Linked DNA regions of Homo sapiens: region 1 is linked to region 2. The links come from fine-mapping of genetic effects on gene expression. A gene starts in region 2. The other region holds a variant in brackets. All regions are shown on one strand. Distances are from middle to middle. Region 1 overlaps KIF3B (kinesin family member 3B). Region 2 holds the start of ASXL1 (ASXL transcriptional regulator 1).

Region 1 (10,966 bases), 60 kb after region 2:
GTAGAGATGTTGGCCAGGCTGGTCTCAAACTCCTCATCTCAGGTGATCCACCTGCCTTGGCCTCCCAAAGTGCTGGGATTACAGGTTTGAGCCACTGCACCCAGCCTAAATTAACATTTTTTTTTTTTTAACGGAGTCTCGCTCTGTCACCCAGGCTGGAGTACAGTGGCATGATCTCGGCCCACTGCAACCTGTGTCTCCCGGGTTCAAGCAATTCTCCTGCCTCAGCCTCCCAAGTAGCTGGGATCACAAGCACCCGCCACCAGGTCCAGCTAATTTTTGCATTTTTAGTAGAGATGGGGTTTCACCATGATGGCCAAGCTGGTCTGGAACTCCTGGCCTCAGGCGATCCACCCCACTCAGCCTCCCAAAGTGCTGGGATTACAGGCATGAGCCACAGCGCCCACTCTAAAATAACATTTCTATTGTTCAGTTTGTAACAATCATCCTAAAAAAAATTCAGATTAAATTGAGATCTAAATACCTAATTGATGTTCAATAAGAACTAAATCTCAAGCCGTGTAAAGAAAACTATGCAAAAGGAAGCCCTTCAGGAATGTAGTCATTATCTTCTAGATCAAGGGTGTCCAATCTTTGGCTTCCTTGGGCCACACTGGAAGAAGAATTGTCTTGAGCCACACCACACATAAAATACACTAACACTACGATGGTTAATGAGTTAAACAAAAAATTGCAAAAAAAATCTCATAATGTTTAAAGAAAGTTTACAAATTTGTGTTGGGCCACATTCAAAGCCATCCTGGGCCGCGGGTTGGACAAACTTCTTCTACATGCTATTAGAATTTTGCCAGATGGGAAGAAAGAGACAGATGTTAGAATGGCCAGTTTCCTGCGTCTTTTCATTTCAGGGGAATGGCTCATGAGCTACGGCCTGTCTCTCCCTCCATTTCAACAGACGCCTGCCAAAGCTGATCTAGGTGCAAAGGGAAAATCCCAGCCCCTGATATCCTCTGGGAAGACCTCTGTTTCAGTGCACGAGCCTGCCAGACAAGATCCTAGACCTGATAGAGTAAGAGAAACAGAATGGCAGGGCAGGACAGGGAGACAGGTCAGTGCAGAGGACTGATTCTTCTGCATTACAGACTTCTGAGAAGGCGGAGCTGTCCGACTTTTACCTGTCAAAACAATGGGGCTCCAAGCCTATGAAAGAAGAAAGAAAGCCTGCAGCAAGCTGACCTTGAGGTTCAGCTGCTTTGTAATAGCTCCATATATTTTTTGAGCTCTCCAAAATGATAGAAACAAAGGAATGATAATGACCTACATTAATCTTAAAAATCTTTAAAAAGGAAGGAATTCCCAAAGCATGAGTCCCCTTAATTAAATCTCCTCAACTCTGAACACAGAACACCATTTCTTTTCTGAACTCACCCAGCTAGACTGAACTAGTCATGTATTATTGACATATTCTTTCAGGAAAATGGACTAAGTTAATTTCCTGCCACCAAGGCTTAAAATCTTATTCTGGGTCTTCCTCAAAGGAGAGAGTTTTCTTGGAAGGATGCCCTGATACTCTTTCTTTATTACCTTTGTTATTCTTCCAGTGGGTCTAATTAGAGTGATAAATCTTTAAAGAAACTCACAGAATTGCCAGGAAAGAAGGAAGCACAGATCAGCAGCTCATCGCCTTCATCCTGAAGACCTTTTCTGCTAGAACTTGTCATTCAATGTTAACACCCACTGTTTGAATGGTTATTGAACATGAAAAATTGAGTAATTCCCCAACCTCAACTCTTTTATCTGCTGAGGAAATCAGATGCACATTTGTCACGGCAGTCACACTCTTCCAGACCGTTCTCCAACTCTTTTGTGTTTAGATTCACGCATCCTCACCTTGCTAGCTGTCATAGAGTCTCACCTCAAAGTCCAGAACTAGGTATGAATTGGATTCTCAGTAACTATTGGCTTCCTATGGAAAGCGTAAGAGAGAGGTCACAAACTGGTTACATTCTATCTAAAACATTTCATTTGGCCCACCTGGTATTTAAAACAACATGGGCCTGGCATGGTGGCTCACATCTGTAATCTCAGCACTTTGGGAGGCTGAGGCAGGTGGATCACCTGAGGTCAGGAATTCAAGACTAGCCTGTCCAACACGGTGAGACCCCGTCTTTACTAAAAATACAAAAATTAGCTGGGCATAGTGGTGGGCGCCTGTAATCCCAGCTACTCGGGAGGCTGAGGCAGGAGAATTGCTTGAACCCAGAGGCAGGGTTTGCAGTGAGCTGAGATCGCGCCATTACACTCCAGCCTAGTTGACAAGAGCAGAACTACGTCTCAAAAATAAATAAATAAATAAATAAAACATGGGCTGGGCACAGTGACTCACACCTGTAATCCCAGCACTTTGGGAGGCCGAGGCGGGCGTATCACCTGAGGTCAGGAGTTTGAGACCTCGTCTCTACTAAAAATACCAAAATTAGCTGGGTGTGGTGGCATGTGCCTGTAGTCCCAGGTACTTGGGAGGCTGAGGCGGGAGAATTGCTTGAATCCAGGAGGTGGAGGCTGCAGTGAGCCGAGATTGCGCCACTGCACTCCAGCCTGGGTGACAGTGAGACTCTGTCTCAAAAAAAAAAAAAAAAAAAAAAGACCATGAAGCGTGGGCAACATAGGAAGACCTCCATCTCCACCAAAAATTTAAAAATTAGCAGGGCATGGTGCCGCTTGCCTGTGGTCCTAGCTAGTCGAGAGATTGAGGCGAGAGGATCACGTAAGCCCAAGTCAAGGCTACAGTGAGCCATGATTGCACCACTGCACTCCAGCCTGGTGCTAGGTCTTGCCCTGTTTCCAAAAGTAAAAATAAACAACAACAACAACAACAACAACAACAACAAAATCCTCAGCAATTCCACTTCTCTATCTATGTATATCCTAGTAAAAAGCTTTGCATATGTGCACAAGAAAACATGGACAAGATTGCTTCCTGCAGCATGGTTATCACAGTAGAAAAACTAGAAACAGGCTGGATGCAGTGGCTCACACCTGTAATCCTAGCACTCTGCGAGGCCGAGGTGGGAGGATTCTTTGTGGCCAGGAGTTCAAGACCAGCCTGGGGAACATAGTGAGACCATCTCTACAAAAAAATTTTTAAAAATCAGCGGGTGCGGCGGCTCACGCCTGTAATCCCAGCACTTTGGGAGGCCGAGGTGGGCAGATCACAAGGACAGGAGATGGAGACTATTGTGGCTAACGCGGTGAAATCCTGTCTCTACTAAAAAAATACAGAAAAAATTGGGGGCGTGGTGGTGGACGACTGCAGTCCCAGCTACTCGGGAGGCTGAGGCAGGAGAATGGTGTGAACCTGGGAGGCGGAGCTTGCAGTGAGTGGAGATCGCACCACTGCACTCCAGCCCGGGCGACAGAGAGAGACTCTGTCTCAAAAAAAAAATTTACATTTAAAAAATATAGCTGGGTGTGGTAGAATATACCTGTAGTCCCAGCTTCTTGGGAGGCTGAGGCAGTAGGATACCTTGAGTCCAGGAGTTGGAGGTTGTAGTGAGCCATAATAGCCCTACTGCACTCCAACCTGGGTGACAGAGGGAGACACTATCTGTAAACAAAACAAAACAAAACAAAACAAAACAAAACAAAACAAAACAGGCCAGTGTGGCGGCTCTCACCTATAACCCCAGTACTTTGGGAGGACAAGGCAGGAGGATTGCCTTAGTCCAGGAGTTGGAGACCAGCCTGGGAACAGAAGGAGACCCCATCTTTAAAAATTAGCCAGGCGTGATGACACATGCCTATAGTCCCAGTACTTGGGAGGCTGAGGCAGGAGGATTGCTTAAGCCCAGGAGGTTAAGACTGCAGCAAGTCAGGATCACACCACTGCACTCCAGCCTGAGTCACAGAGGAAGACCCTGTCCCAAAAAACAAACAAAAAAAATCTAGAAACAACCTAGACATCCATTTATAGGGGAATTGAATAATAAAATATGATATATTCATATTATAGACAATATGGCTGGGTGTGGTGGCTCACGCCTATAATCCCAGCACTTTGGGAGGCTGACGCCGGAGGATCATCTGAGGTCAGGAGTTTGAAACCACCCTGGCCAACATGGCGAAACCCTCTCTCTACTAAAAAATACAAAAATTAGCAGGGCATGCTGCGATGCGCTGTAATCCCAGCTACTTAGGAAGCTGAGGCACGAGAATCACTTGAACCCAAGAGTCGGAGGTTGCAAGCGAGCTGAGATTGCGACACTGTGCCCCAGCCTGGGTGATAAAGCAAGACTCTGTCTCAAAAAAAAAAAAAAAAAAAAAAAAATATATATATATATATATATATATACACACACACCATTCAGTAGTTACAAGTTATAAGGAATAAATTAGAGCAGAGGTCAGCAAATTACAGTCCAGGATACAAATCTGGCCCAGAGCCTGGTTTTGTAAACAAAGTTATATTAGAACAGCAATATTCCTTAGTTTACATATTATCTACTGCTGCATTAACTATAGAGGTGAATAGAGTTGAGTAGTTGCAATAGAGACAATATGGACTACAATACTAAAATATTTACTATCTGGCCTTTTACAGAAAGTGTTTGCCAATCTCTGAATTAGGCTTACAGATTTAACATGGATAAATAAATAGGCTGAGTGAGAAACAAAGCTGCAGAGTGACAGTTACGATTAGGAATTTACAAAAAAATACGGTGCTCATGGATTTGCATTTATGTATGTATAAGTACTAAAAAGTGGGATAGGATGGGTGCAGTGGCTCACACCTCTGTAACTGCAGCACTTTGGTAGGCTGAGGTAGGAGGATGATCACTTGAGTTCAGAAGTTTGAGACCATCCAGGGCAACAGAGCAAGACCCTATTTCTACAAGAAATGAAAATTAGCCCAGTGTGGTGGCCTACTACCTACAGCTACTCCAAAAAGGTGGAAGGATCACTTGAGCCCAGGAGGTGGAGGTTACAGTCAGTCACGATTGTACCACTGCACTCCAGAGTGAGACCCTGTCTCTGAAGAAGGGAAGGGGAAGAGAGGGGAGGGGAGGGGAGGGGAGATAGAAGGATATATAACAATTTATGACAGTGGCTGCCCAAACTGGGCAATGGGAAGTATGGATAATGGGAGTAGAGATGGGAAGGATATTTCAACTTTATCTGTAATACTTTATCCTTTCTCTTAAAAAACAAAAACAGGAAGGTTTCAAGCTTTATAACATTTCCCTTACTTTGCTGATTCTATTTCTTATATTATTCTCTGAATTTTTGTTTTGTTTGTTTTTTGAGATAGAGTCTCACTCTGTCACCCAGGCTGGAGTGCAGTGGCGCAATCACAGCTCACTGCAACCTCCGCCTCCCTGGCGATTTTCCGCCTCAGCCTCCTGAGTAGCTGGGATTACAGGCTCAGGCCGCCATGCACAATTAATTGTTGTATCTGTTTGTAGGGCTGGGTTTTTGCCATGTTGGCCAGGCTGGTCTCGAACTCCCAGCCTCAAGTGACCCACCCACCCTGGACTTCCAAAGTGCTGGGATTACTGGTGTGACATTGCACCAGGCCTGAATTTTTTTTTTTAATTCAAAAAAACAACAATTTTTTTTTTTTTTTGAGACGGAGTTTTACTCTTGTCCAGGCTGGAGTGCAACGACATGATCTTGGCTCACTGCAACCTCCGCCTCCCAGGTTCAAGCGATTCTCCCCGCTTAGCCTCCCAAGTAGCTGGGATTGCAGGGATGCGCCACCTTGCCCAGCTAATTTTGTATTTTTTTAAGTAGAGATGGGGTTTCTCCATGTTGGTCAGGCTGGTCTCAAACTCTTGACCTCAGGTGATCTG[C/T]CCGCCTCAGCCTCCCAAAGTGCTGGGATTATAGGCGTGAGCCACAGCACCCGGCCTAACAATTTCATATTAAAAAAAAAAATCCACTTCTCTGGAAACATGGGAATATCTGACAGCCCTTGACCTGAACCCCAAGTGGCAGCAATAGGAATCTTCCCCAACCCCACTATCTCCTGTTTCATATCTAGCATGCTTTGCTCATTTATACTTCCTGGCTGGCTCTTGTAGACATCTCTGTCTATGACCAAATTCATATATGTATGATTTGATTAAGAAAGGCCCGACATACTAGCCCATCTTTTTAAATGCCATTTGCCGAGGCTCTGTAATGACATGGAAAATGCTTATCATAAATGAAAAAGCAGTTTACAAAATTGAATCACTGCATGCAATCACAATTATATAAAAATAAAGACACACGTAAAAACATCAATAGTGGTCAACCTTGGGTAATAGTATAGGTGATTTCCCCTGCTCTTTCAACATTTCTGTATTTTCCAAATTCTCTTTAATGAGTATGTGGTATCTCCAAATGGGAAAAAATAGAGGTCTGGCAATTCCCCAGGAACAACCCTGCAAGGAGGTGCAACCTGTGGGCACACAGAGTGCATACTAACGCACCTCAAATCAATGCATTCCAAAGCAATGTCCTCTAAGATCAGATCACGCAACCACCTGCCAACTGCCTGGCCCAGGGTTCAAATACTCAGAGTATCTGAAATGCAGCCCAAGCCAAAGATCACATGAGCCATCAGAAAAGCACTGCAACACTCGAGCAAGAAGTAAAAGCGACTCCCTGCTAAGCAGCCTAAACCAATTCCCTGGACAGGCTTCTCTCGGGGGAAGCAGCTGTTTTTACTCTGTATCCACCTCATCACCATCAACACTACTCCTTTTTACAATTATTTCTAATTGTTTTTGAAGTATCAGGACTCCGTGTTTGCAATCCCTGAACCACACCATGAAAGCAAGTCCAATTCTAGGTCTCTGGTTCCTATGATGGCCAGTTTCACAAAGGGAGTTACACACTTTTTAAAACAAGATTATCCATCTTGGGTTGAAAAATAACACCACTGTCCTGCAGAACTTTTAAAAAGACGTTTTATACATATTGAGAAAATGGTTCTACATTTGCTTATATGTGCATAAAATATATCTGAAAGAATTCACAAGAACCATGTAACAATTGCCAGATAACAACACTGGCTTTCCCTAAAAGAGCTAGGTGGATGAGGGCCAAAAGTAGAAGAGAAACTTTTCATTATATACCCTTTTTTTTTTCTTCAGACCGAGTTTCACTCTGTCACCCAGGCTGGAGTGCTGTGGTGCAATCTTGGCTCACTGCAACCTCTGCCTCCCATTCAAGCGATTCTTGTGCCTCAGCCTCCCGAGTAGCTGGGATGGCAGGCACCCACCATCACACCGAGCTAATTTTTGTATTTTTAGTAGAGAAAGGGTTTCGCCATGGCCAGGCTGTTCTTGAACTCCCGGCCTCAGGTGATCTGCCCACCTCAGCCTCCCAAAGTGTGTTTACCCTTTAATATCTCTTGAGTTTTGAATCATGTAAATATATTACTTAGTCAAAAAATAAAATAAAATCAAGGGGAAAGAGAGATGGAAAGGCTTTGTGAAATTAAACAAATATACAGGGGTTACTCATTTTTCCCATTTTATCTATCCATTTGTGCTGACCACCATGAATATAAGATAATAAAAATGGGCCGGGTGTGGTGGCTCACACCTGTAATCTCAGCACTTTGGGAGGCCGAGGCGGGTGGATCACAAGGTCAAGAGATCGAGACCATCCTGGCCAACACGGTGAAACCCCGTCTCTACTACAAGTACAAAACTTAGCCGGGCGTGGTGGCAGGCAGTTGTAGTCTCAGCTACTTGGGAGGCTGAGACAGAAGAATCACTCAAACCCGGGAGGCAGAGGTTGCAGTGAGCTGAGATCATGCCACTGCACTCCAGCCCAGGCGACAGTGCAAGATTCTGTCTCAATTTAAAAAAAAAAAAAAAAAAAAAAAGATAATAAAAATGTTTTAATTGATAAATGAGGGGACCTACTAGGAGACCTAAATTCGGGACCTACTTATCCTAAATTTATGATGAAGCTTCGTAAAACAGTTTCTATTAGGTCCACAGCACTAGAATTTTTAACTTTCTAAGGTAAATGTAGCAAGTCATGCAGTGACGGCTCTAAAAAGCATTTAGAGCATAGACGTCAAATAAGAAAGTAATGAAATATATTCTGTTGTTATTACAGGCATTATTTGTAAACATAAGGTCAGCCAGGCGTGGTGGCTCACACCTGTAATCCCAGCACTTCGGGAGGCTGAGGCGGGTGGATCACGATCTCAGGAGATCGAGACCATCCTGGCTAACACGGTGAAACCCCGTCTCTACTAAAAATACAAAAAAATTAGCTGGGCATGATGGCGGGCACCTGTAGTCCCAGCTATTCAGGAGGCTGAGGCAGGAGAATGGTGTGAACCCGGGAGGCGGAGCTTGCAGTGAGCTGAGATCGCACCACTGCACTCCAGCCTGGGCGACAGAGCGAGATTCTGTCACAAAAGAAAAAAAAAAGGGGGCGGGGGGCGTCACCTTTTTTGTAAGCCAAACAGTTGCGTGAACTGTCTAAAAAGTTTCAAAATGTCCCTTACAGAAAGAACATATAAGAGCCACAGCATCTCAAATTGGCACAACATACTTGAGGGCAGTCAGGCAATCAGTACCAAAACTCTAAATGTGAATACTCCCTTGAAACAGCAATTCCATTTCTTGGAATTATTTTAAGGACATAATTGAGTAACTAAATACATGTGCAACAATGTAATACACAATTTGTGTTTGTCACATCACCACCTCTAAGCACTTAAATGCTCATCAATAAGGGAGTGGTTAGATTATGGCACATCTCTACAATGGGAAACTATGAAGTCATTAAAAATGGCAACAAACCTCTAGGTATTTAGATATGGGCAATATTCAAGACATATTGCTGAGTGAAGAAAAAGGCTACTAAACAGAATTACTATGATACAGTTAATGTTTATGTGTACAGGCACATGTGCAGATGCAGATTTGGGGAACACAGAGTAAAGACATTGTTAAAAGCATGAGCTGAGGTGTTCAGCAGGTCTGGCTTTGAATTTCTGCTCTGCCATTTACTAGCTATAAAATCTCAAGAAACTAAGTCACAGTTTCTTCTTCCACCAAGTATGGTTAATAGCAATATCTCCCTTAAAGAACTGTTCTGAGGATTAAATAAACTAATGAATGTTAAATGCTTAGCTTTTAACATTGAAAAGTACTAATAAATACTCATGAAATGCAGGTAATATTGACCTCTAGGGTGGTGCGCCTGCAGGCTATTTTTTTGCTTTCTTTGTATTTTTTGATGGGTGCATGTATTTTGATTTTTATAATTAAGGTGGGGGAAGCAATAAAGCAATGTTTTCTTTGGAGAAAAGTCCAGAACTTTGATTTCAGCTTAAATGTCTGAAGAAGACACGCTAGTTCTCCGGAAAGAAACCTAAAAACGTCACAGTCAAGTAACAAGGACAATAAATGCCTGCCCTGAATTCAAACTGGCGCCATGTACTCTCTGTCATTTGATGACACAAAGAGGCAAACAAAGCATTTATTTAGGCAGGGAAAGAAGAAAAGAAACTCTTTTTGGCATTCAATTGTAAAACATAAAATACATTCAAAAATATATTCAAGTCTGTTGGACAACACCTACTATTCAGAATCAATGCAGTTCTTGGGTTTTATTGTATTCAATAGTCACAACTCACAGTATACCAAGAGCTTAATGTGAGTCCTCTTTTAATCCTCAAAATCACCTTGGGAGGAAGGCAGGCATTAGCCTCATTTAAAGAATAAGGATCAGAGACTCAGGGAAATTAATTTGCCCAAGGTTACACGACAATTAAGTGGAAGAGTCAGGATTCAAAACCAGATTTGTCTTATTTTAAAACCCATATATAAACCCATATATTTTTAAAACACCTGATATATACGCATATATACATGTGTATGTCTATGCAAAGATTAACGCAATTCAAGCTGTACAGAGTGTACAGTGAACATGTAAATCTTCCTAACATATCTGCATTGCTCCTTCATCTTCATCTTTTGCTTTTAAACCTTTTTAACTCAAGTAGCAGTATACTATATACCACTGTACTTCTTCCTATATAAATCTTGGAGAACTCCTTCTCCCCGCCCCCCAACTCATTTTGTGTTGTTTTCTTTGTTTGTTTTTTTGAGACAGACTCTTGCTCTGCACTCCAGGCTGGAGTGCAGTGGCATGATGTTGGCTCGCCATAGCCTCAACCTCCTGGGCTCAGGTAGTCTTCCCACCTCAACCTCCTCAGTAGCTGGGACTACAGGTACATGCCACCAAACCTAATTTTGTTTTTATTTTTTGTAGAGACAAATGTCTCACTATGTTGCCCAGGCTGGTCCCCAGGCTGGTCTCAAACTCCTGGCTCAAGTGATCCTTCCGTCTCTCAGCCTCCCAAAGTATGGGATTACAGGCATCAGACACCATGCTTAGCTGCTTCTTTTTCCTTTCTTTTCTGTCTTACTTCCTTTCATTCATTCATTCATTCACTCATTTATTTTGAGACAGAGTCTCAGTTGCCCAGGCTGGAGTGCAGTGGCACAATCACAGCTCACTGCAACGTCAACCTCCTGGGGTCAAGCAATCTTCCCACCTCAGACTCCCAAGTACCTGGGACTATAAGCACACCCCACCACATCCAACTAATTTTTTATTTTTTGTAGAGACGGGGTTTTGCCATGTTGGCCAGGCTGGTCTTGAACTCCTGACCTCAGGTGTTCCGCCTGCCTTGGCCTCCCAAAGTGCTGGGATTACAGTCATGAGCCACTGCGCCCAGCCAAAAAATGTCTTTGATCAGTCAGTCCCTTATTGAGGGACCTTCTGATGGTCTCTGGTCATTTGCTACTGCAAACAGTACTGCAGTGGCTATACTGAACATATATACCTTTAGGGTAAGTGGGAGTAGTTGGTAGGATCCACTCCCAGAGGTAGGACTGTTGTACACATTCTATTGTTTTTTAAGAGTCAAGGTCTTCACATTCTGTTGTTTTTCAAGAGCCAAGGTCTTGCTCTGTTGCCCAGGCTG
Region 2 (10,966 bases):
AATCTGGTCTCTGCCTCTCTACCCATCCACAGTGACACTCTACAAACTTTATGTTCCAATAATTTGTAGATATACCTAATTCCCACACGTTGCAAATACACACACTCCCTCTCACCCACTCTGACTCTTTCTCTCCTGCTATGTGTTGTCACCAGCTCCTGCTTATGCCCTCTGTGATTGGCCTAACTCCTAGTTACCCTTCAAGATTCAGCTCAGAAAGCACCTTCCTCCAGGAAGCCTTCCCTGATCTCTGCCAGGCAGAGGTAAATGTCTCTTTTCAATGTTCCCATTGTTTCATAACACATACAATTATCTTCCAAACCAGGACAGTTGAGAGTGAAAGGAGAAACTATGACTAGACAAGAGGCAGCAACTGGGATATCTGTTTATGATTTATACAACTATGATAACACGTATCATGACTGTAGTAAAATTCTGTTCCTGCGTCTGGACCTTCTTCATCCCCAGAAGACCATAAGCCCTGAGGGGCAAACCTTATCCACCTCTGTATTCCAAGAACCTAAGTGCCAAGATGGGCAGTACTGACTTGAACAAACCTACAATAAACCCTGGAACAAGCTACTAATGTTCACTGCCACAGATAACATTTCTTTGATACTAATTAAATGAAAGCTGAGCTGGCGAATTTTTATATCTTTTTTTTTTAAGAAGCATGACTCAAATAGTAACTACCAATTATTTAAACAGCAATCAGAAATAGCCTGAGAATTTAAGACAGGGGAAACAGAATCTCTAAAGGGAAGTTACATCAAAAGATACAAAGTATTCTTTTTTATTAAAACTGTTTATGCCTCCAGCTCTTGGTATAAGAACAAGTCAGCAGTGTTCTATTCCTAGTCTCTTTCTAGACTACATTTTTTTTTTTAAGTATCTCTTCTCTTACTTCAAAGGGGAAAAAAATGTTTGATGTAAGAACTGGTCAGTCATGAATCAAAGTAAAAGATAAAGCATACAACAAAGAGTTTCTCGAAGCCAGGGAGAATCCATTTAGCGTCCTCGATTTAAAGGGAAATCCCCTTGGCTATTTCTCCCAAACAAACTGTTTATAACAAGTTGGAGGATTTATATCCACTCAACCACATAAGGTCTACTTCTTACACCTAGAAAAGACAATACTACAAAATGTGTGAAAGAAAGACTATTTTTCAACAGCATAATTAACATCTGCAAAAATCAATCTCCTGGGGTACACTATACTGAAATTCTTAAGAATCTTCTTTCCTCTACGAAAGGTTTTTTTGTTGTTGTTGTTTTGTTTGTTTGTTTTTGAGACAGAGTCTTGCTCTGTCGCCCAGGCTGGATGGAGTGCAGTAGCTCGATCTCGGCTCACTGCAAGCTCCGCCTCCCGCGTTCACGCCATTCTCCGGCCTCAGCCTCCCGAGTAGCTGGGACTACAGGCACTCGCCACCACGCCTGGCTAATTTTTTGTATTTTTAGTAGAGATGGGGTTTCACCGTGTTAGCCAGGATGGTCTCGATCTCCTGACCTCGTGATCCGCCCGCCTCGGCCTCCCAAAGTGCTGGGATTACAGGCGTGAGCCACCGCGCACAGCCTACAAAAACAATTTTTAAAAGGATTCCCAGTAACACTCTAGTCACCAATCTGAGTGGGGTCAGGAGCAATCTGAAAGCGTTCCCATGGAAGTGCATACAATTGCCATTGCAAGCACTCCAAATTCACCTGCCCAAAGAGAAGTGTTCAGGTGTTCTAATCAACTGTCCTACGTTCCCTCCTAGTCAAGTTTCTCTCAGTCCAGTGTACGCTCTCACAAATTCTCCAGTACAGTGTTACAGCAACTTTTTTTAAACATTAAGAGGACTGGTTTTTTCTTTTGTTTTGTTTTTGAGACAGAGTCTCACTGTCGCCGCTGGAGTGCAGTGGTGTGATCTGGGTTCACTGCAACCTCCACCTCCCGAGTTCAAGTGATTCTCCTGCCTCAGCCTCCCGAGTAGCTGAGGTTACAGGCATGCACCATCACCATGCCTGGCTAATTTTTGTATTTTTAGTAGAGACGGGGTTTCACCATGTTGGCCAGGCTGGTCTCGAACTTCTGGCCTCAGGTGATCCGTCTGCCTCGGCCTCCCAAAGAGCTGGGATTACAGGCGTGAGCCACCGTGCCCGGCCTGGGACTCTTAAAAAGTTCCCCCTCACCTACCATCCAGTCCCATTCAAAGAAATGGAAAATTCTAAAACAAAAAACACACACAAGATACTCAAATTGCATATCACATTCTCAACAAGTCCTTTTTCTTTTTTTCTTTTTTTTTTTTTTTTGAGACGAGTCTTGCTCTGTCACCCAGGCTGGACAGTGGCATGGCCTTGGCTCTCTGCAACCTCCACCTCCCAAGTTCAAGTGATTCTCCTGTCTCAGCCCCCTCAGTAGCTGGGATTACAGGCGTGCACCACCACACCCGGCTAATTTTTGTATTTTTAGTAGAGACTGGGTTTTACCTTGTTGGCCAAGCTGGTCTAGAACTCCTGACCCTGTGATCCACCCACCTCGGCGTCCCAAAGTGCTGGGATTACAGGCGTGAGCCACAGCGCCCAGCCTCATTATTTTTTTAGAGTCAGGGTCTCCCTCTATCACCCAGGCTGGAGTGCAGTGGTACAATCAATCATTGGGCACTGCAGCCTCCAACTCCTCGGCCTAAGCTATCCTCAGCCTCCTGAGTAGCTAGGACCACAGGTGTGTACCACCATGCCCAGCTCATTTTGTTGCTGTTGTTGTAGAGACCGGGTCTATGTTGCCCAGGCTCATCTCGAATTCCTAGCCTCAAGTGATTATTCCACCTCAGACTCCCAAAGTCTCGCAAATCCTTTTTCACATGTATAACAGCACCACAAAGTAATTCCTACTCATAGGCTGGGCGCGGTGGCTCACGCCTGTAATCCCAGCACTTTGGGAGGCCAAGGTGGGCGGATAACCTAAGGTCACGAGTTCGAGACCAGCCTGACCAGCATGGAAAAACCCCATCTTTACTAAAAATAAAAAATTAGCCGGGTGTGGTGGCAAACAAACGAAAAACAAACAAACAAAGTAATTCCTATTCATATTACTATTTTTAATGAAGAGCCTTAGAAGAAAAAGAGGAATAACTTACCCTGATAACCTGGCTTGAAGTTGAGTCAATGATAAAACAGAAATAGCAACCTCGATGTTGAAGTTCAGACCACGGTAAATTCGAGAATCTAAAGAGACTTAACAGTGGACCCCAAATTCCTAAAGTCAACTAGTAAGAGCCAACAGAACTTTGAGACAAACAGATTTCATAATTCTGTCAAGACATAAATAACACAAGACTTAAAAGTACTTTCACCTACCTCTAACAAGTAAAACTCTGGCAAGCAAATTTCCTTGGGTGCCCAGGGTCATAAACACCCGCATAACAGGAACGCCAAGGAGAATGTCAATGAACACACAAAACTCATTGTCGAGGAGGAGAACGAGAGCTCTCTCCCACTCCCCATCAGGCCTATATTTGTTTCCAGGTGCAGAACCGTTAGAGAAATCCTGAAATTTCTACAAGATCCTGAAAACTAGCCCAAGCTTCCAATTTTGACTCAATCAGAAAAAAAATATTTCGGAACCTCAAAATCTTCAAACTTCACATGCCAGGCCAAAATAAACTGAAGCACAAAACTTCAGCATACAAACAATTGCTATTTTTGTTCCCTGGGCAACAAATGACTAGGGAAGAGGATAGCAAGCACCAATGAAAATTCTGTAGCCCAAATTCCTTCAGTTTTTATAAATCTGTAACTTTTACAGACTTCGAGAAAGAAAAAGGTGTACTTCAGGTTTGTGTCAACCCCCCCAATACAGTCTATTTTTTTTTTTTTTGCACAACACCTTTGAAGCAGAAAACTCACTTCAAAATAAGAGAGAAAATTAAGTCTGAGCTTCACTCATCATTAAAACTGAATTACAACCATTACATATAAACTACAGTGTCAAGAGACACTTATGCTATCCGCACCACAACCTCGCTGTGTGACAGATCTTAGGAACTGACATCTTAGTATAACCTGTTACTACTGGTATCAGCAGATAATTACCCGAATATGTCTCAAAGTGTCTGAGCTTTGTGGGAGTAATCCAAAAGGAAGCTATTTCACCTGCAAGTCCTCTGACGCTCTGAACACAAAATTCACAACCCCCATCGGTTGAACGAGACGGCTTCAAACACTCAAGTTACGCTCTCCCTTGCTAAATCCTCAGTGAACAACGTCTCCCAACAGAGATACTTTGTCTTTGTCCAACATACATTCTTTGCAAAGTGGATTCAGTTCTCCTCAAAATACCAATTTCCAGTCCAGCTTCTGAAGGCAAACAGCCCAGTCTGCGTTTCTCAAAGTGGGGTCCGTGAGCCACTGCGTTTGAATCACCTGGGAAGCTGGTGAAAGCGCAGATTCCCAGGCTCTATCCCAGACCCTGAGGCTCAGCAGGTCTTACGAAGGGCCCTAGGAGTAGCGTTCCTAACCGCCTCCCAGGTGTCGCCCACAGGACACTAAAGTTAGAGAACCGCTGCTCAGGGTTCAAGCTGGGAGTAAGCACTTGCTTCCCTCCACGCACCTGGTTTAGATTGGGAAAGCTCAACATGCCATTGGCGTCCTTGAATGTGGGGTCGCTTTTCCACCCCCGGAGTCAAAGGCACCACCCCATTACCCACCAGGAAGCGAGGGAGGAGCTTCCGACCCTTCCCGGAAACCCAACTCCCCCGGGTGAATGAACGAAGCTGCCCCAGACCCCCAGACGCTGCCAAATAGTGGGGGAGGGGACGCGGGACCCCGCTGCCCAGAGTGGGAGGAGCCGGCCTGCCAGCTCGCCCCTCCGCCGGAATTTAGCTGCGCGGGGCGGGGGGGGCGCGAGGGCGAGCGGAAAAAGGCGCCACATCCCATCCCGGCGGAGCGCTCCCCACCCCTCGCCTTGCGGGGCTGTCCCGTTCTTAAAGGAAGATGGCCCCGCCCCCTCCCGCGGTGGGCAGGGCCTTGCCCCTCCCCCCCCAGTGGGGGGGTGCGCGGCGAGCCCCCCCCACCCCGGGCCCCACGGAGCCCCCCTCGGCTGTCCGCCTCACCAGGCGCGCGGCCTCGGCCCACGTGCGCTCCTTCTTCTTCTTCTGTTTGTCCTTCATCCTTCTCCCCGGCGGCGGCGGCAGCTCCACGCGGGACCTCCGGGCTGGGCGGGCTGGGGCGGTGGCGCGGGGCTGGGGCGGCGGCGGCGGTGGGGGGGGCGCGTGGCAGCGGCGGCGCGCGAGGTCTCGGGTGCGGCCGGGGAGAAGGGGCGGGCACGCGGGGACCGGCTGGCGCGAGAGCGGCGGTGGGGGAGGGGCGGCGGCGGCTCCACGCGCCCGCGCTGCGTCAGTCGCCCACGGCGGCAGCGGCGGCTGCCCCGCGATCGCTAAGGAATGCGGCGGCTCCGCATAACCACGGGGTCAGAGGTCACGGCTCCGGCCTCCGCTTTCCCGCTCTGCTGAGGGACTGAGACAGGACCGACGGCGGGGCGGGAGGGCGAGACGCGGCTTTCCCTTCGGCGCCCGGGTGCGTGCGTGTCTGCCGTGGGTGTGTGTGAGTGTGTGTGAAGAGTGAGGAGGGGGAGTGTGGGGTTTTTTTTTTTTGAACAAAAACAAACCGAAAGGGCGCCTGGGAGTCGTAGTCCCAACGGCCTCTCTGGCCTCCCCCGCTCCGGAAGAATATGGCCGCGTGAAGCGCGTGGACCACACTTCCCGGCGTGCCCGGCGGCCCCCTTCCGCTCTCCCTCTCGCGTCCTCCGCCTAGCACCGACCTCAGCTAGGAACGGGGACGGGTCGCTGTTCGGGGAAGGGGCTGGGTGGAGTCTCGCGAGGTGCGAGAACTGGCTGGGGGCCTGCGGGATTCTGGGAGGCGATGCTGGGAAGGGGCGGTGGCTGGGCTCCCCCGGCCACCCTTAACCCCTTCGGTGCTTTTTGCTTCAGGACCTCCTGGCGGGTGCGGGTGGGGAGTGAGGATGGGGAGCTCGACTCGCAGTTCCCACTTCGTGCTTCTCCTCGCCTAAACGGTTCTTACCTACACTTCTCGTAGGGGACGAGAGGCAGGACTTTCCCTTTTGGTCACCTCTAAATGACTCACTGCCACATAATAATGAGACAAAAAGACCCTCATACCAGTAAAACGGTTATTCCACGGCTGATGGACTTAGACGGTTCTTCATTTCTTCCTGTGCTTTCAGGCCGCTGTGTATTTGCAGAGCCTGCACCAGCAGCCTAGAGCGTTCTTAGGAACTTGGTGATATGTTGACGGGTCGTGTAAAGAACTTGGACTCTGGGGCCATACTGACCAGAATGCACCTGAGGGCGTTTTTAGAGGCAGTACCCTGGAGAGAATTCAGGCCCTGGAGTCCAGCGGACCTAGACTGGAATCTTGGCTGAGTCACTCCCTGGCTGTCCACTCAACCTCTCTGAGCCTCAGTTTTCTGATCTGCATTTGTCTTGTATTTCATGGCATTATTGGAATTAAAATTAACATACAATTCTTGACAGATTGGAAGAGGATGTGAAGGGAGATCTTGACATTATCAGGTCCGTATGATATGGCGCCTGGCATAGAGCAAATGTTTAATAAATGGTAGCTGTTATTACCAGCTGAGAAACAATAGGCAATATACTTAGCCTCTCTGAGCCTTAGTTTTAGAACCTGAAATGAAATTCAGAGCGCCCAGCACATAGGTTTTCTGTAACTATAGGTTCAGTCGTTGTCCAGAAACATTTCTAGAGTCCGTCCGGAGTTGGATTGATGCCAGCTCTTAAAAACTATGAAGGCAGGATCAGTGGCCACATTTAAACGGTTTCCCTGGGTGAGGAAACACACTCTCCACTCCCTAATGTTAACACGTAGCGAGAGCCAGTATTGATAGGAGACCATTATGGTGTAGCCCAAACTCTAACGCCAAGGGGTTCAGTGTTTTCTGCTTCTAATACTGGTCACAGAAAACTTGTGAGTCCGGTAAGCAAAATCCTACAAAGGGAAAAGACTGCAAGTTAGAATAAGACACCTCTTAAAAATCTCTCTAGCTTTACCCTGAGAGAAAGGAGGAACTACTGTCCCTCAAAAAACTGTTTGCCTTGATTTTTTACAAAGGATTTTTAACTTCTTTTTTTTCAATCTACGGCTGATACAGTACTCTTTGGCAAGTCATTTGGCTTCTTTCCGATGTCTTCTGAAGTAGCTTTACTGCCCTCTGACCTACAGGGAATAACTGAAATTTACATGTTTAATACAGGTACTGTGGTAGACAGAATAATGTCTTCCCCGCTTGCCCAAAACTGTCCAAGTCCTAGTCCCTGGAACCTGTGAATATGTTGCTTTTTTATTTATTTATTTATTTATTTTTTGAGACAGAGTCTCGCTGTGTTACCCAGGCTGGAGTGCAGTGGCGTGATCTTGGCTAACTGCAACCTCCGCCTCCTGGGTTCATGCGATCCTCCTGCCTCAGCCTCCCAAGTAGCTGAGATTACAGGCATGCGCTACCATGCCCAGCTAATTTTTGTATCTTTAGTAGTGACTGGGTTTCTCCATGTTGGCCAGGCTGGTCTTGAACTCCTGACCTCAGGTGATCCACCCATCTCGGCCTCCCAAAGTGCTGGGATTACCAGCCAGCATTCTTTGGCAAAAGATATTTTGCCAATGGAAATAAAGCCCTTAAAATTAGATGATTCCGTATTATATGGGTGAGCCCAGTGTAATCACATGAACCCTTAAAAGCACAAAAGGGAGGCAAAAGAGATGTTTTGGAGAGATGAGGCAGAGGAATTAAATTCAAAGTATGAGAGGAATTCAACCCACTGTTACTGGCTTTGAAAGTGGCCACAAGCCAGGGAATCCAGGCAGCCTCCAAAAGCTCAGAGGAAGTCCTGCCAAGAGCCAGCAAGGAAATGGGGACTTCAGTCCTACAACCTCACAGAGCTGAATTCTGACAAGCTGAATGAACTTGGGAACAGATTATACCCCCTCCCCAACTCTCTAGAAAGGAATATAGACACCTTGATTTCAGCCTCGTGAGACTGGAAGCAGAGAATCAGCTGAGCCATGGAATCCAGACGTCGGGCCCACAAGAAGCGTGAAACAGAAATGAATATTGTTTTATGACACTAAATCTGTGGTAACTTCTTACAGCCCCAAAAGAAAGCTAATACAGGCATTATGGAAACACCTTTATTTCTTTCAGCGAACACTGCCTGACTTCAGCTGGGTCAAACCATGGGGGAATCCAGATTTGAATATTTCAAGGTCTCTGCCCTTGCAGAATCAGACAGAAACAAGTGACAACATCGTAGTTAAGTGTGAAAACAGTATGTTCAGAGAACGGTACAGATATGTTAGAAAGTTGGCTTTAGTCATTAAACCTTAAGTAGATGTGATTTTTTTAAAGTTAATGAGATTCATGAGTTTATTTTCTTGTCAGAAGCACCAACAGACAAACCTATACATTTTTGGTGTGTGTTTTTCTGTTTTTTAATCACAGTGCTTTTATTATAGATTATCTTCAGAAGTTAGTGCAGGTGGCATGTGGAAGATAAACAGGACAGACACTCAACCCTGCCTAGTTTGGGGATGAGTCACTTTTCAAACTGCACAGTTATAAGCAAAGTGCATATTCAAGAACCAAGTTAACAGGCCACCAGCAGACACCCAGGAATTCCCAAAGGGACACATATATCCCATAAACTGCACTGCAAGATAATATATTCTCATTGGCTCTGCATGTCAGCAGGCCTGGGTTTGAATCTCTGCAGTCTTTCTCCATCCAGTTCTGTGGCCTTGGGCAAGTTATGAAACCTCTCACTGACTCAGTGCCGTCATTTGGACAGCAGGGTACATAGCAAATTCAAAGAATGGAACTGAGATTAAATGAGATCTCTGTAAAGTGCCTAGCACATAGCAGATACTCACTAAATACCAGCCCTCTTTGCCTCCAAAAAGTTTTAGTGTCTAAAGTGTAAAAAGTGCCTCATTGTTTATACTTTGAGTGAAAGAAACCTTGGAACAGGGTTTGCCCCTGTAACAAATGTTCTCTCTCAATAATATTATCCCCGTTTTCACATGAAGCTGAGATTCAGAGAGGTCAGATTACCTCCCTTGGGTCCAGATGATTAAATAAGATTACATTTGCTAAATAAACTTCCAGCATAGCAGATGATCAGTACATGTATAGCTCTCCTTGTCCCTCCCACATTTAATTTATTTGTGTGACTTTGGTTTAGTGATTGTGTTCATGCTAGCATCTTTGGTTTCATCATCATATCCCCAGTGCCTGGCACAGTCTTGGCACATGGTAGGCACCCAATCTGTTGAATAAATGACCCGATCTCCGTAATTACTTTACTGGAGAAACTCTGAAGACTAATTTCCCTTTGAGCCCTAAACAATGTTTGGAACCTGCTCAGGGAGAATCGGGAAAGACCAAGACAGGATTTCACCCAAATATATCTATGCAAGTTATAAAGATGCTCATGGATAGAGAGCATGACTTCAGCTGGGCGTGGCAGCATGTGCCTATAGTCCCAGCTACTCAGGAGGCTGAGGCAGGAGGATCATTTGAGCCCAAGAGTTTGAGGCTGCAGTGAGCCATGGTTGCGCCATTGCACTCCAGCTTGGGTGACAGAGCAAGACCCTGTATAGGAGACTTCATGACCTTATTATTGTCATTAAGTCACAGAATCTGCCCATGTGATGGGCAGCCCTAACTCATAGCTCACCTTCCATTCACCATCGTTTAAATCCTGCTGTTCAGTCTCCCAGTAGGGAGGAAAACGTGTTTAAATTACCAAAATGTCTTTTTCGTTTGTTTGAGACAGGGTCTCTCTGTTGCCTACACTGGAGTGCAATGGTGCAATCTCAGCTTATTGTAGCCTTGACCTCCTGGGCTCAAGTAATTCTCCCACCTCAGCCTCCCAAAGTGCTGGGATTGCAGGCATGAGCCACTGTGCCTGGCAACAAAATGTCAATAATGGTTACCTCTGGGTAACCATCAGACTATGGCAACTTTTGATTGTCTTTTTTTTTTGAGACAAGGTCTCACTCTGTCACCCAGGCTGGAGTGCAGTAGCATGATCATGGCTCACCGCAGTCTTGACCTCCTGGGCTTAAGCCATCCTCCCACCTCAGACTCCTGAGTAGCTAGGAGTAGGTAGGGCCACAGACACATCCCACCACCCCGAGCTAATTTTTTTTTTAAATTTTTTGTAGAGACAGGGTCTCGCTATGTTGCCCAGGATAGTCTCGAACTCCTAACCTCAAGTGATCCTCCTGCCTCGGCCTCCCAAAGTGCTGGCATTACAGTTGTGAGCCATGGACATATTACCTTTTGTTTTTGAGATAAAGTCTTGCTCTGTCATCCAGGGTGGAGTGCAGTGGCATGATCTTGGCTTATAGCAACCTCTGCCTCCCAGGTTCAAGCAATCTTCCTACCTCAGTTGGTGGGATAACAGGCATGTGCCACAACACCAGGTTAATTTCTGTATTTTTAGTAGAGACAGGGTTTCTCCATGTTTGGCCAGGCTGGTCTCAAACTCCAGACTTCAAGTGATCTGCCTGCCTCAGCCTCCCAAAGTGCTGGGATTATAGGCATGAGCCACCACGCCCGGCCCATATTACACTTTTTAATTGAAAAAAATTCTTTTTCATTTCAACCGCAAAACATAGAACATTTAGATTAAGGTAGTAGCTATGGGTAATATTTTTTCTTTTTTATATTTGTATTTTCAAAACCTAGAATTAGTATGTGCTACTTTTATGATGGAAAAACAAATTCCATTCTTAATGCAATATACCTCAACAATGTGAAAACAACTTTAATAATTATTAATATTTTTATTTTGCTTAAAAAGATTTGTGGGACCCCCTAGAATGGCCTCAAAGGAAGGATAACCTGAGCTGCTTTTTACCGAAATCACGGAAAATGGCAGCTCTC

What was found. PIP is the estimated chance that this variant, and not a neighbour inherited with it, causes the effect. A credible set is the group of variants that fine-mapping cannot tell apart.
Region 1: its variant is the best candidate, but not a certain one, in a credible set for the expression of ASXL1 in whole blood (TOPMed, PIP 0.74).

The regions. Positions count from the first base shown.
Region 1 is chr20:32,292,726-32,303,691 of GRCh38, reverse strand. All of the region lies in intron 1 of KIF3B (kinesin family member 3B), which reads right to left. Among named protein-coding and RNA genes, the nearest start is that of KIF3B, 21 kb to the right of the region's middle. The variant C/T (reference allele first, on the strand shown) is at 5,811.
Region 2 is chr20:32,352,963-32,363,928 of GRCh38, reverse strand. It overlaps ASXL1 (ASXL transcriptional regulator 1), which reads right to left and starts at 5,598. Exons shown (of 13, transcript NM_015338.6): 1 at 5,097-5,598. The coding sequence starts at 5,153. RefSeq lists silencers at 4,899-5,058, 5,299-5,348, 8,297-8,366.